Linked DNA regions of Homo sapiens. The protein of the gene in region 3 purifies or fractionates together with the protein of the main gene of each other region. This does not show direct contact. Each region holds a gene or a part of one and is shown on either strand. Other genes may lie near its edges.

Region 1 (3,500 bases), on a different chromosome or scaffold from region 3:
AATCTGTATCTTAAAGAATGACCCAAGTGCCACCAGTCTAGTCCAGGGCACCACTCTTTTTTTACCTGGTTGGCCATTGTCCCCTGTCAACTGACCTCTGACTTTCATACATTCTACACAGCCCATTCCAGACCATTCTCCACCTGGCAGAGAGGGTTATAAGTGGAAGTCACATGGTGTTGAAACCGGAAAGGTTCCCTTGTCCCCCTCGCAGGGCATGTGATGGGGGTGTGGCTCGCTTCTTCAGTGCCCCGCTGCTGCTCAGACCTCTAGGAGAGCATACAGACGGGCAGGCTGTGGGGCTCCGACCCCATGGCAGCATCTGGGGGTGAATGTTTTACAGCTCCTAAGGCTCCAGCGGGCATGTGTTACAGTGTGCTCTTTTAATTTAGCCGTCTGTAGGCAGCTTGTTTTAGCTCACTTAGACCCCCTTCCTTATCACAAGGACAGAGGGATTAATGTATCCCAGGTTCTTGTCTTGGTGTACCGGAAGAATGGGATCACATGTGGGCTTGGAGAATGAGTGCAAGGTTTTATTGAATGAAAGTAGCTCTCCGCTGATGGGGGAGCCAGAAGGGAGACAGATTTCCCTTGGAGTTGGGCCGCTCAGCGGCCCTGGCCAAACTCCGCCTCGTCCCCGTGGTTGATGGCCTGCTGGCTTGCCGGGGCCTGTCGGGGTGCTCTTCTGCCGGCCTGCTCTCCATGACCAGCCGCTTGTGTCTTTTTCCACCAATGTGTTCCTCTGGCCATCCAGCCACTTCTGTCTGCCCACTAGGGTCTCAGGTTTTTATAGGCCCAGGATGGTGGTGTGGTGGGCCAGCGTGGTCTTGGGAAATGCAACATTTGGGGGAAGGCAGGAGTGCTTGTCCTCACCTAGGTCCGTGGGGGTAGAGTCCTAGCCAGGGACCCGCCTTTCTCTCCCCAGCACTTCCCTTCCCCGCTTCTGTGTCATTTAAAGGGACCACGCTCTTCCCTTCCCAGCACTCCCGTATCAGTGTCACTTCCCTGCCCAGAGCCCCTGGGTATCTTACCATTTCGGTCGAACAAAGGCCAGGCTCTCCCATGCCCCATGAGGCCTGCACACTCTGCCCCGAATTCGCTTCTGCCTTCCCCCCTTCCACTCTCCCTCTTGTTCGTTGTGCCTCAGTCAGACCAGTCTTCTCCGCGCTCCAGAACACTCTGCCCTTTCCTACCGCAAGGGCTTAACACTCGGCGTTCCCTCTGTCTTACACACATTTCTCTCTTCTGGTGCCAGCTCCTCCTCACCATTTCGGTCTCCACTAAGTATCCACATCCTCAGCCTTCCCTGCCTATCGTGCCTGAGGGGACTCCATCATTTTCTATCAGAGCCCCCAGCTTCACTTGTGACACTAACAACCACATGGAGTGATTTTCTTTCTTTATGGTCTGTTTCCTCAACTAAAATGTAAGCTCCAAGATGACAGAAACCTTACCTGCCTTCTGTCCCAAGTGTCGGGCTCTGTGCCTGGCACGGGTTGGCACCCACTGTGAGGCCTAGTTAGATGATCGTGGCACTCACAGACCTCGCACGGTGCTTGGTAAACTAGTTAGTAACTTAAAACAATTGCTGTTTCCCCTTGAAATCCCTTGAAAGCAAACCTTTTCAAAAATGAAATTAATAATTCTGTCTTATGTGAATGTATTCAAGTGTTACATAGATCACGAGGAAAAAGAAATGTAGCCCTTCTGTCAGATAATACATGAGAATTCAGTAATACGAGTCAGTGCCCTGGGGCTAATATTGGGATGGGAATGATGTGGGGTTTGGAGGGTGTTTTTTTTGGTCAGCCGTGTTTCTGGGAGTGACTCCCTTTCTGTGTTTTGGTGTCAGATCCGGTGTTTAAAGCCGTCCCAGTGCCCAACATGACACCTTCAGGAGTCGGCCGGGAGAGGCACTCGTGTGACGCGCTGAATCGCTGGGTGAGAATGGCAGTCACCCCCCTTTCCTTTCAGGTCCCCGTCCATCACCATCCGACCTGCTGGTGAGGGTGACGCGTGCTCGTGTATGGGAACTGAGGCCCACAGGAGGAGCCGCCCTGCCAGTGCTGGGCCTGCTCTGGAGTTCTGTTCCCCATTGCGTTACCACCTCACGAGCTGGGTCACCTCTGGCAAGTCCTTCTGGCATTGCTCCCTCACTTTCCTTGCTGCTGTATAAGGCTGTGAGACAACAGGCAAAAGGTGGGCTGCAGGGCAGCTGCGGTGGGTTCTGGTGAGCCTGGGCAGCACAGCCGGGAGCCCCAGGCAGAGTCTGCCGAGCATCTGCAGCTGGCAGTGTGGAGCCAGGCCTGCACTTTGATAGCGTTTTGGGCACTGAATAGCAGCTCTAGGATTTGAGTCTGAAGGGTCTTGTGAACAGTGTGGGATGGCGGCAGCAGCAGTTCTAGCCAATGCTGGACACGCCCAGCCTAGCAGGGTTGGCAGATAAGTCCTGGTACATCCATGCTGGGGCTCAGCACAGCTGTGAGAGACCACAGAGCTGAGTGTCTCAAGCAGAAAGGAACTGGTCATAAACGAAATGAATCAATGCAGGTTACTAAGCAGTGTCAAGTAGCATGTTTTATGACAACAACTACAACTCCCTGCCCGCCACTAGGAGAAAAGACGCTGGGGGCAGACCACATGTCAGCAGTGGGTGTCGCTTAGTAATATATTGTGGGTCATTGTTATTTTCTTCTTTTTGTTTACTTGTATTTCCTAAATTTTTCTACAATGAACTTGTATTAATAAGAAAAAACCATAAAATTTACTGTTTTTAAAAAGCTGCTCTAAGTAATCAGACAGTCAAAAGAGCAGGAATCAGCTCTCCAGGAGGCTCTTTGGTCTGGGGCCGAGGGGATGAGGGTGGGTCCTGAAGACGTCTGAGTCCCTTGTTACAGGAGGGTGTTCATTGTGTCCTCCTCACAGCTGGGAGAACAGCTGAAGCAGCTGGTGCCTGCAAGCGGCCTCACAGTCATGGATCTGGAAGCTGAGGGCACGTGTTTGCGGTTCAGCCCTTTGATGACCGCAGCAGGTAAACCAGGCTTGGTGGACATCCCTTGCTTTTGTTCTGGGGCTGCTGGGTAGATTAGCTTGCCCTTATGATACTCCATTCTCCTAGAGTTATTAGCAGCTCTTTTTGGAGGGGCATTTTCTTTTCTTTTGGGCTAAATTTAGGTAGATTAGCATTCCCATGTAACTTACCAGAATCAGAATGAGAATTCAGAAGTCACCTGAATTGGCCGGGCATGGTGGCTCACACCTGTAATCCCAGCACCTTGGGAGGCCAAGGCAGGCAGATCATCTGAGGTCAGGAGTTCGAGACCAGCCTGGCCAACATAGTGAAATCCCGCCCCTACTAAGAATACAAAAAATTAGCCAGGCATGGTGGTACACACCTGCAGTCCCAGCTACTTGGGAGGCTGAGGCAGGAGAATCACTTGAACCTGGGAGGCCGAGGTTGCAGTGAGCTGAGATTACACCACTGCACTCCAGCCTGGGGG
Region 2 (3,500 bases), about 120 Mb from region 3:
GTACCCGGCTGGGAATGCCTTTTTAAACATGCCAAGAAACCATTCAAAACAAGATAATCCTGATTATATAAAAATATTAAAGCTCTGTAGTGGAACTATCACAATTAAGTTTTGTATGAGACTATCGTAAATACATAAGATATACACTACTGGCCAGGAGACAAAAATTTATGAACAATGTAACAGACGAATGGTTACTGTCCACTACTGGATAAAAATAGCCATAGTTCGGGCACGGTGGCTCACGCCTGTAATCCCAGCACTTTGGGAGGCTGAGGCAGGTGGATCACCTGACGTTGAGAGTTTGAGACCAGCCTGACCAACGTGGAGAAACCCTGTCTCTACTAAAAATATAAAATTAGCCGGGCGTGGTGGCACACCCCTGTAGTACTAGCTACTCGGGAGGCTGCAGCAGGAAAATCACTGGAACCCAAAAGGCAGAGGTTGGAGTGAGCCAAGATCGCACCACTGCACTCCGGCCTGGCGACAGACCGGGACTCTGTCTCAAATAATAAGTAAATAAATAAATAAATAATAAAAATAAAAACTGCACCATGATCATTTCCCAGTGTTACTTTCTTTTTTTTGAGATGGAATCTAGCTCTGTCGCTCAGGCTGGAATGCAGTGGCACAATCTCAGCTCACTGCAACCTCAGCCTCCTAAGTAGCTGGGACTACAGGTGCCCACCACCACACCCCGCTAATTTTCTGTATTTTTAGTAAAGACGGGGCTTCACCGTGTTAGCCAGGATGGTCTCGATCTCCTGACCTCGTGATCTGCCTGCCTCGGCCTCCCAAAGTGCTGGGATTACAGGCGTGAGCCACCGCGCCCGGCCCCTACGTATTCTTTAAAAAGATCTTACAGAACAATATTCCATTCTATTCATAGTGTTTAACCAATTATGTACTCATAGGCGTCACCACAAATGGTATCACAGTAATAACAATACTCATAACAGTGTGCAATTTCTGGCATCCCAATTAATACTGAGTTCTCATTTCTTTTTTCCAATGCTAAATCTTCTTTAAAATTACAATTCTTGGGCTGGGCACAGTGGCTCACACCTGTAATCTCAGCACTTTGGGAGGCTCAGGTGGGAGGACTGCTTGAAGCCAGGAGTTCAAGACCAGACTAAGCAATAAAGCGAGACCCAGTCTCTTAAAAAAAAAAAAAAAAATTTAATTACCTAGGTGTGGCCAGGCGAGGTGGCTCACGCCTGTAATCCCAGCACTTCGGGAGGCTGAGCCTGGCAGATCACTTGAGCCCAGGAGTTGGGAGACCAGCCTGGGCAACATGGGGAAACATTGTCTCTACCAAGAATACAAAAAAACTGGCGCGTACTGGCACGTGCCCGTGATCCCAGCGATCCCAAGCTACTCCGGAGGCTGAGGTGGGAGGACTCCTTGAGCCTGGTAGGCAGACATTGCAGTGAGTTGTTGAGATTGCATCACTACACCCCAACCTGGGTGAGAGAGAGACCCCAGTCTCAAAAAAAAAAACCACCAAAAACAACCAATTAGCTAGGCGTGCTGGTGTGTGCCTGTAATCTTAGCACTTTGGGAGACCAAGGTGGGTGGATCGCTTGAGGGCAGTTCGAGAGAAGCGTGGGCAACGTGGCGAAACCCCGCCTCTATAAAAAATACAAAAATTGGCTGGGCGTGATGGCTCACACCTGTAATCCCAGAACTTTGGGAGGCCGAGGTGGGCAGATCACGACGTCAGGGGTTCGAGACCAGCTTGGCCAAAATCGCGAAACCTTGTCTCTACTAAAAATACAAAAAATAAAAAATTAGCTGGGTATGGTGGCGGGCGCCTGTAGTTCCCAGCTACTCAGGAGGCTGAGGTTACAGTGAGCTGAGATCGCACCACTGCACTCCAGCCCAGGTGACAGTGCGAGACTCTGTCTCAAAAAAACAAAACAAAACAAAACAAAAAAAAACCATAAAAATTAGCTGTGCGTGGTGGCGTATGCCTGTGGTCCCAGCTACTCAAGCGGCTGAGGTGGGAGGATCACCTGAGCCAGAAAGGTTGAGGCTGCAGTGAGCTGTGACTGCACCACTGCAATGCAGCCTAGGTGGCAGAGTAACACCCTGTTTCAGATGAATGAATAAATTAAAAAAATAAAATGGCCAGGCGCGGTGGCTCAAGCCTGTAATCTCAGCACTTTGGGAGGCCAAGGCAGGTGGATCATGAGGTCAGGAGTTCAAGACCAGCCTGGCCAAGATGGTGAAACCCCGTCTCTACTAAAAATACAAAAAATTAGCCAGGCGCGGTGGCAGGCGCCTGTAATCCCAGCTACTCAGGAGGCTGAGGCAGGAGAATCGCTTAAACTGGGAGGGGAGAGGTTGCAGTGAGCTGAGATCACGCCACTGCACTCTGGCCTGGGCAACAGAGTGAGACTTTGTCTCAAAAAATAAATAAATAAATAAAAACAAAATAAAACCACAAATCTTTGATGCTGAAAAGTATTTATACACTCATTGGCCATTTGCATTCATTAACATAAAAGATGTGCAGGTTACACTGCATTTTAAAAAGGCGGAGATGACTAATCAACAAAGTTCCTAACCAACAGCAGCAGCCAGTTAATATTAATATCTCAGTCCAGCATATCTCATAGAATCCAATTTACCTCACAAATTTTAACAGTTCTCATGTTAAATTCACAAATATTTCAGAAAAGTTCTACATAAAAATGTTAACAATGGTTAACTGGGGTGATGAGATGGAGGGGATTGGATTTTTTCCTTCTTAATCTGTAGTTTTCCATTTTCAGACGTCATCCCGCCCCTCCGCGTATGTGCTATCTGTGTGAGGAAATCCTACACACGGTCCCATTACCATTTCTCGCTGGGACGTCCTCATACACTGGACACACCCCATAGTACAGGGGCGGCTCCTTAGACGCAGTCGCTCCAGCTCTGTAGGTGTCGGTGTCACTAGGGGGCACCGAGCAGGTCTTGGATGTCACAGCTTCCTCCTCTGGAGGATTCAGGCCCACACTGTAACCAAAATCTCTGTCTTCAGAAAAACCAGCCTGATCAGTTGGGTTCCCTTCAGCTGGCTTCAAAATCCTTTGTGGGTCCTGGCTGAGAGCTGTGACACCTGCCTCATGGTGGTAGAAAGAAGACAGCCTTCCTCCTTGCTCCAGTAAAGCCTGAGCCAATTTTTTCTCAAAAATGAACCTTGTAGTTGATGTAATGGGTCCACATTTCAATCCGGCTTTGACGATTTCTTCTCTAAGGTCATCTGGATTCAGAAGTTTCAATCGAGCCAACAGAGCATCCATTGTCATTTCACCTAGGCCCAAGACAAAAAAATCAAAGAGTCACAAAATACTAACACCTGCTGAAGCTGGGTGATGGGTACTAGGGTTCATTATATAATGGCATCAGTTTCTGTTTCTTTCATTAAAAACTTTTTTTCTTGGCTGGACGCGGTGGCTCACGCCTGTAATCCCAGCATTTTGGGAGGCTGAGGCGGGCGGATCATCTGAGGT
Region 3 (3,500 bases):
GATGGGGTTTCACCATGTTGGTCAGGCTGGTCTCAAACTCCTGACCTCAAATGATTCACCACCCACCTCGGTCTCCCAAAGTGCTGGGATTACAGGCATGAGCCAGCTTGGCCTTTTTAAATATTAAGTGCATGTACTTGAAAGTAGGTACACATGAAGATAAAAGAATAGGCTCCAGGAAAATTTAAGTCAAGTCTTCATAATCTATAAAATTGCCTATTTAATAAATATATGTTGTAAACATTTTTAATGTTCTGTAATTACTGTTATTAATGTCATGTTACCTCTTTGATCTAGGTACTTTGGTCATAAAGCTGAAGTATATAAAAACAATCTATATTTAGTACAGACCAAAATTCATGTCCTTTGCTTTTAAAAGGTAGAACCAAGAAAAAAAAAGCAATAGCAGAATACGGGCACGTATTCTAAAGAATTATAAATGGATTTTGCAGCACTTAATTTCTGTTTTTTTTTTAAGTACCTTTCTTTGATTCTTTGTCTCCTCATTGGTACCATCCCAGAACACTGATGTCTTCTGCCAGATCAGACCTGTCTTGATCATCTTCCCCACCTAAATCAGGATGTGTCCTCCCTTCTACCTTTCCAGAAATCCCACCTTAGTTTTCATACTTTTCTTGATTAACTGGTCATAAGATGATTTCCCTCAACTCCACCCTGTCTCAACATGCAACTCCCCATGAGTCAATCTTCATAATTGTTTCTAATGTGTTTGTTCCATGGTGTGTGTTGAGTAACTGTTGTTGCCATTTGCATGACTACATAGTGGTTACTGTTTATTTCTGCAGTTTGGTGTTTTTTTTAAGTCTTGAAATAGGATTTATTAACCGGAAGTGTTTCTTTTTATTTCTTAATTAAATTCAGTGAGAAGCTTATCATGAAATGTTATTCTTAGGCTGGCATTCATAAAACACTGGAGTGTTTCATTTTCTCCTGATCTCAATCTGCCTTCCAAAGCTGCTAATGACAGATGAGAGCAAGATTATAATTTTAGTTAGGGTGTGGTGGCTCATACCTGTAATCCCAGCACTTTGGGAGGCCAAGGCTGGAGGATCCCTTGAACTCTAAAGCTCGACACCAGCCTGGGCAACACAGGGAGACCCTGTCTCAAAAAAAAAAAAAATTTAAAAAGATTATAATTGTATGTAGTCAAAGAAATGTGTTTCTTTTCAAAGGCAATGTGTCAGAACTTTGTCCCATCTCTGGGCCTTTTCTTTATTATCTTAAACTCTAAACTATAGAATTAGCCTCCTCAACTATAGTTTTTGCAGGCCAGTTCACTCTCCTTGCTCTAGAACTCTGGATAGCCTATATATTTCCATCATCCTGTCTCTTTCATAAAGAATCTTGCCTTTAAATGAAAGACTACTCCTTAAACATTAGTACTTGTAATATTCAATCACCTACACATATTAAAGAACGCCTGCCCTCTTGTGTCCAGGGAGACTGCTACAGCAAGTATTGAATTAGCAAACTTGTCATTCCGGAAATACAGCATTCTACCCTACAGGGATTATCTACCAGGGAGCTTTCTCAAGGCTGCCAAGTATGGTTGTACAGTTTGAAAAATGATCCCAGCCCAAGACACGAATGCAATCCATTTTACACTCTGTCAAGCCATATATCCTTGCCCAGGTCATGTCTTTCTAGAGAGGTGACCCATTAAAATTTCATTCAAGAGTACTGTTAAACCTTGTACCACTTGGAATGTGCAACTTTCTCTAATTTACACAAAGCTCTCTATAGCTTAATGGCAGCCGTGTAGAGGCTCATTAAGAGTTAGTTGGGGCCGGGCACGGTGGCTCACGCCTGTAATCCCAGCACTTTGGGAGGCCGAGGCGGGCAGATCATGAGGTCAGGAGATCGAGACCATCCTGGCTAACATGGCGAAACCCCGTCTCTACTAAAAATGCAAAAAATTAGCAGGGCGTGGTGGCGGGCGCCTGTAGTCCCAGCTACTTGGGAGGCTGAGGCAGGAGAATGGCGTGAACCCAGGAGGTGGAATTTGCAGTGTGCCAAGATCACGCCACTGCACTCCAGCCTGGGCGACAGAGCGAGACTCCGTCTCAAAAAAAAAAAAAAAAACTAAGAGTTAGTTGGACAGTCCTCTCATCGTGTAACTTTCCTACTCAAGAAATTTCAAGAAATTAAAATCAGATTGTTAGAGCTGAATAGCTGAATGACATTAGTCCCAGGTTATCAGAAGAAGGAAATAAGGAAGAGAGAGGCAAAATAAGAACTGTCAAATTCATTAGAGGCAAGCAGGAAACTAAAATGCAGGTCTTCTGACTCCCAGTCCATGCTCTTACCTCCGGTTTCAGGTGACCCGTTTCTTTGACCCCACCTTACTTATTCCATACTAGGCTAGAATAGATGTGTAATAGCATGCATAGGGCTGGTGGGGTGATTTGAGGCAGTATGTGGACAAACATTTTTTGCACATTAGTAGAAATGTATTTGTTTTAATGTATTTCTTTGGGAAAAAACAAAAACATTAAGTCCATAGTTTCTGAGACATTATGATATATGACAAGGGTAAGTTAAGTTTGAAAAGTGAGTTAATTTGAAGAAAGATATTAAGTAGTGCATATGTTAATAGCTTGATTTAGCCATTGACAATGTATACATATATCAGAATATCATTTTGTATGCCAAAATATATACAATGTTTCCTTGTCAGATATCAAAATATCCTTTCTTTTGTATAACATAAATATATATAATTTTTACTTGTCAGTTAAAAAATAACAAAAATATTAACTAAATGATAGTTCAGATAGTACTCAGATATGGCAAAAATGATAAAAGTGGTAAAAAATCATGGTAGAAATTTGAGACCATCTCAGTCCATTCTGACTACTATGACAAAACACCTCAGACTAGGTAATTTATAAGCTATAGAAATGTTATTGCTCACAGTTCTGGAGGCTGGGAAGCCCAAGATGAAGGGACTGGAAGACTCAGTGTCTAATGAGGGTCTGTTTCTCGTAGACAGTGCCTTCTCTCTGTGACCTCACATAGTGGAAGGGGCTAGCTAGCTCCCTCGGGACTGTTTTGTAAGGGCCTTAAAACCCTTCAGCAGGATGCACCGAAGGAACTTACCACTCTGGCCCCTTCTAACCCTACCACTGAGGTCCTTTTCTGTTTAACACTGACAGTTGTTCCATTACTGTTACTGATGACAGTATATCCTCTCTTTTTATTACAGCTGTGCCTGATATTCTATCCTTTCCATACTCATCCCAGTATAAACCACAAAATAGGTCTTCAGAAAAGACTGTGGCTTCACTGATTTTCCTGTGTTGCCTCCAACATTTATAAAAAAGCATTGACCAAGAGTGTCAATGCCCTAGTTTCAAAACCATCTTTACTTTTCTAAATGTAGATGTTTTTCCATTTATAAAAATTATGTAGACTTAGCCGGGTGTGGTGGCCCACACCTGTAATCCCAGCACTTTAGAGGCTAAGGTGGGTGAATCACT
Region 4 (3,500 bases), on a different chromosome or scaffold from region 3:
CCAGCAACTGGAGAAGAGAAAGCAAATGGCTATGAATACCCACTACAAGAACTGGCAGAAGATCAAGGGGAGCAAAGACAGCAAATATGCTATTAAATTAGGCATGGTTAGAAATCGTGGCTGGTTGGAAGCTGATCCAGGCAAAGCTGGTATATTGAAAACTAGGGAAGTTTGGGGGCCAGAGGTCAGAGGTCCAATGACAGGTAGAGAACAGACGCTTTAGGAGTTCAAGAAGAAGGGGGAGATGTAATGAGGTAATCAAGACCAAGTCAATGTGAAACAGTCCGAAGTCCCAAAGCTGGGCTATACCTATGGGCCCCAAGGTGAGTACAGATGGCTCCTAATCTGAAGATTCTCCACTGTGCTATTACATGTAATCCCAAACCAAACTTATAAGAATACTGGCCTTCCCTGGCATTTGAGTTTTATTCTGCCTCTTTAAAAGGGCTACTCAGAATAAATCAGTCTCCTTTGCAGAGTCAGGAGAAGGGAAACCAGCCTCTCTGTGCAGTGTTAGCATGATGAGCTAAGAGTTCAGAAATGACTGTAAATGAAAAATGGTGATAATGATAGCAGCTATCATTTACTGAATGCTTCCCACGGGCCAGCTGCCATGCTGATTTCCTTTATGTTGATTATGTCATTGTATATCTTGTGACAGATCTTCAGGGTAGGGGCTATTTTTGTCCCTGTTTCAGAGCTGAGGAAGAAAAGGTTAGGTATTGGAGCTGAGACTTAAACCCTAGTGTGACTGAATCCAAAGCCTGTACTTTTAACCATGAGGCTAAAACCATTTCATCAAAAGCCTTTCTGCTATTCATGTTCTTAACATCATAGAACTGGTAGGGACTATAGAGAGGTCCTTTAATCACAGATTCAAACTAGCCTAAATCCCAAAGCCCTGGAGAATGCATCCCAGGCATTCATTTTTTGAAAGAGACCTAGAGAGGAAAAGTCACGGGGCTGGAACTAAAACATGGGCTTCTTGAATCCCTGTCTAGCTCTTATTCTATTTCTCAGGTTGCCGTGGACCAAAATGAACTCTCAGTCTATTTGTCTTATCAAATTGCAGTCTTCAGCAAGTGTCTGAATAACTTGGTCAGGACCTTCCTTCCAGGAAGAGCCTGGTGACCCTCTGAAAGCAGCCATGTACTTGGGAGTTCTCCTGCACACCCATGGTTTTTGATGCTCACTATAGTGACTAGGCAGCTGGAGGATTCCAATCCTAATGATACGGAGAACACAAAACAATATGAGACACTGGGTCCCCCAGCCTTCTTCTCTGGGCCTGAGGGGAGATTTGAATTAGCAACTCCTCACATGAGCTGCATTCTTTAGCCTTAATTTAAGTGGGCAGAGGTGAATGAAAATGTGTAAATGTTGAAGTGTTATTATTCAAAAGCCCTTGAGATCCCATAGCTCATCGTAGTAATTAAAATGCAGCACAGAAGACCCCTTGCTTCAGTAGCTCACAGGGTATAAGGAAAATGAATGAGGATCACAAGTTGATGGGATTGGGAATTAGCATGCTGGTGTGCCATATTGAGTAGAACAGCTGGCCTCGATGTATGGGTAGCATAAGAAACAGGCCTCCCTCCCTGTGTGCCACTATCTCCTTGTTTCTCTCCTAGAAGGGCAGACTGTGGGGAGGGCAGAGCTCGGGGAACATGGGAAGTAGTGTAGGAGAAAGGCCTAAGGGTCTCTTCTGCAACTTCACTAGTCCCTGGGCGTGAGGTTTGTTGCCCAGGGTGGTCTCTAACTCCTGAGCTCAAGTGATCCTCCTCTCTCAGCCTCCCAAAGTGCTGGGATTACAGGCATGTACTGCCACACCTGGCCCTTCTCTGCCTTTTCTAATGTATTTTTACTTCTCTGTAAGCCTGACAAGGTCTTATTTCTCCTTCAGTGCTCAGCTCGAAAGCTACCTCTTCTGAGAAGCCTTCTGGTTCGAAGTAATCAGGCTTTCCTTTTTGTCTGCCAAGCATATGATTTATGCCTGTCTTAAAGCATCTATTGAGGCAGACTTGGTGTCTTTATTTTTTTTATTTTTTATTTTTTGGTGAGACAAGGTCTCGCTGTGTCTCCCAGGCTGGAGTGCAGTGGCATGATCACAGCTCACTGCAGCCTTGAATTCCTGGACTCAAATTATCCTCCCATCTCAACCTCCCAAGTAGCTGGGACAGCAGGTGTGCACCACCACACCCAGCTAATTTTTAAATTGTTTATAGAGATGAGGTCTCGCCATGTTGCCCAAGCTGATCTTGAACTCCTGAGCTCAAGCAATCCTCCCACCACAGGCTCCCAAAGCGTTGGGATTACAGGCGTGAGCCACCACACCCGGCCTCTTTATCCTCATATCCACCTGGGTGCCTCCTGAGGACAGACACTTCATACATTTGTCCATGGGATGAGTGGTTACAGTGACAGTTCTGGGGCCTGTCTCAGAGTTTCTCACTTCAGCCCTCTCACCATATTACCTTCTGTCCCTTCCTTCTGCTGTTCAGAGTTATAAGGATGGTGAAGGTAATGAATGCTTGTGAAGTGCTTTATATCTTACAGAGTACTTTCATGTACCTTATCTTTGATGATCCTTGTGACAGACCTGTGAGGAACGGAGAAGTAGTTGGTCTCATCTGTGAGCAAAGTGTGTTGTAACGGACCCTGTGTGGAGGATAATAACAATTTCAACATCTATTGAGAGCGTGGCATGTGCTAGACACGGTTCTTAATGCATTACACGTATAATTTAATTACCGCAACAATCCCCCAATTAAGATCCCAGAATTGCACAAAGAAGTGATTTGCTTAAAAACTGCTTCTTGATCAGTATATTCTATTGTTAGCACCTTGTCCCTAAGAGACCTTATATTATCCTTACTTTGCAGAAGGAAGAAACCATTGAGTAATTCTTTTCCCACCCATTGATCTGCCAAAAAAAACTCATCTTGGCCTTGGATGTAGTTTTTAATGGGAACAAGAACACCAGCCTTAGGGTCTTGGATCTCGGCAAGCTTTTCAGATACCAAAGTGTCTTTCTTAGGAATTGCCTGGCTAAGTCATATGATTATAAGAATTTCTTTCCATCATTTCTTATATTCCACAAAATATTGGTGGATTGTGGTTTCTCTAATAGGATTATGACCCTCAGAGATTCTTCCTCCACATATTTCCTTCCTCCGTAAGTTTCCATTCTTTCCTTCTACCCACTTCCTTCCCCTTGGCATGTGTCTGGTATTGAGCCCTTGGCATCTGTCTCTCTTTCATCATTGATAGCTAGCATGAATGGGTGGCTGTTTCACAGGGCCTGCATTGTTGGCTCCCACAGCAGCAGTTAGAACATTCTCTGTGGCCTGGGTTCTGAGGTCCACCCAGGCAGTGTGAGCCAGGCTGGCCCCCAGTTCTGAGCTGTGGTGTTTCCTTTCATTGTTGGTGCCTTAGCTCCCAGTTGTTAAATATGAAGCTGGAAGTTGATACAAAGCAGTAGAAGCCTGTGCTCCTTTTAC

What was found. The genes of interacting proteins can lie anywhere in the genome.
Region 1: the proteins of PLBD1 (region 3) and PDXDC1 purify together in Homo sapiens (affinity purification with mass spectrometry; one large-scale study listed by BioGRID and IntAct). This does not show direct contact.
Region 2: the proteins of PLBD1 (region 3) and ANKLE2 purify together in Homo sapiens (affinity purification with mass spectrometry; one large-scale study listed by BioGRID and IntAct). This does not show direct contact.
Region 4: the proteins of PLBD1 (region 3) and ANKS1A purify together in Homo sapiens (affinity purification with mass spectrometry; one large-scale study listed by BioGRID and IntAct). This does not show direct contact.

Annotation. Positions count from the first base shown.
Region 1 is NC_000016.10:15,027,026-15,030,525, forward strand, and holds part of PDXDC1 (pyridoxal-dependent decarboxylase domain-containing protein 1), read left to right. Parts: intron 1-1,852; coding exon 1,853-1,941; coding exon of another isoform or gene 1,942-2,007; exon of another isoform or gene 2,008-2,780; intron 2,781-2,925; coding exon 2,926-3,031; intron 3,032-3,500.
Region 2 is NC_000012.12:132,751,833-132,755,332, forward strand, and holds part of ANKLE2 (ankyrin repeat and LEM domain-containing protein 2), read right to left. Parts: intron 3,302-3,500; coding exon 2,843-3,301; intron 1-2,842. UniProt on the Homo sapiens protein: Involved in mitotic nuclear envelope reassembly by promoting dephosphorylation of BAF/BANF1 during mitotic exit.
Region 3 is NC_000012.12:14,512,384-14,515,883, reverse strand, and holds part of PLBD1 (phospholipase B-like 1 precursor), read left to right. Parts: intron 1-3,500. UniProt on the Homo sapiens protein: In view of the small size of the putative binding pocket, it has been proposed that it may act as an amidase or a peptidase.
Region 4 is NC_000006.12:35,011,255-35,014,754, forward strand, and holds part of ANKS1A (ankyrin repeat and SAM domain-containing protein 1A), read left to right. Parts: intron 1-3,500. UniProt on the Homo sapiens protein: Regulator of different signaling pathways. Regulates EPHA8 receptor tyrosine kinase signaling to control cell migration and neurite retraction.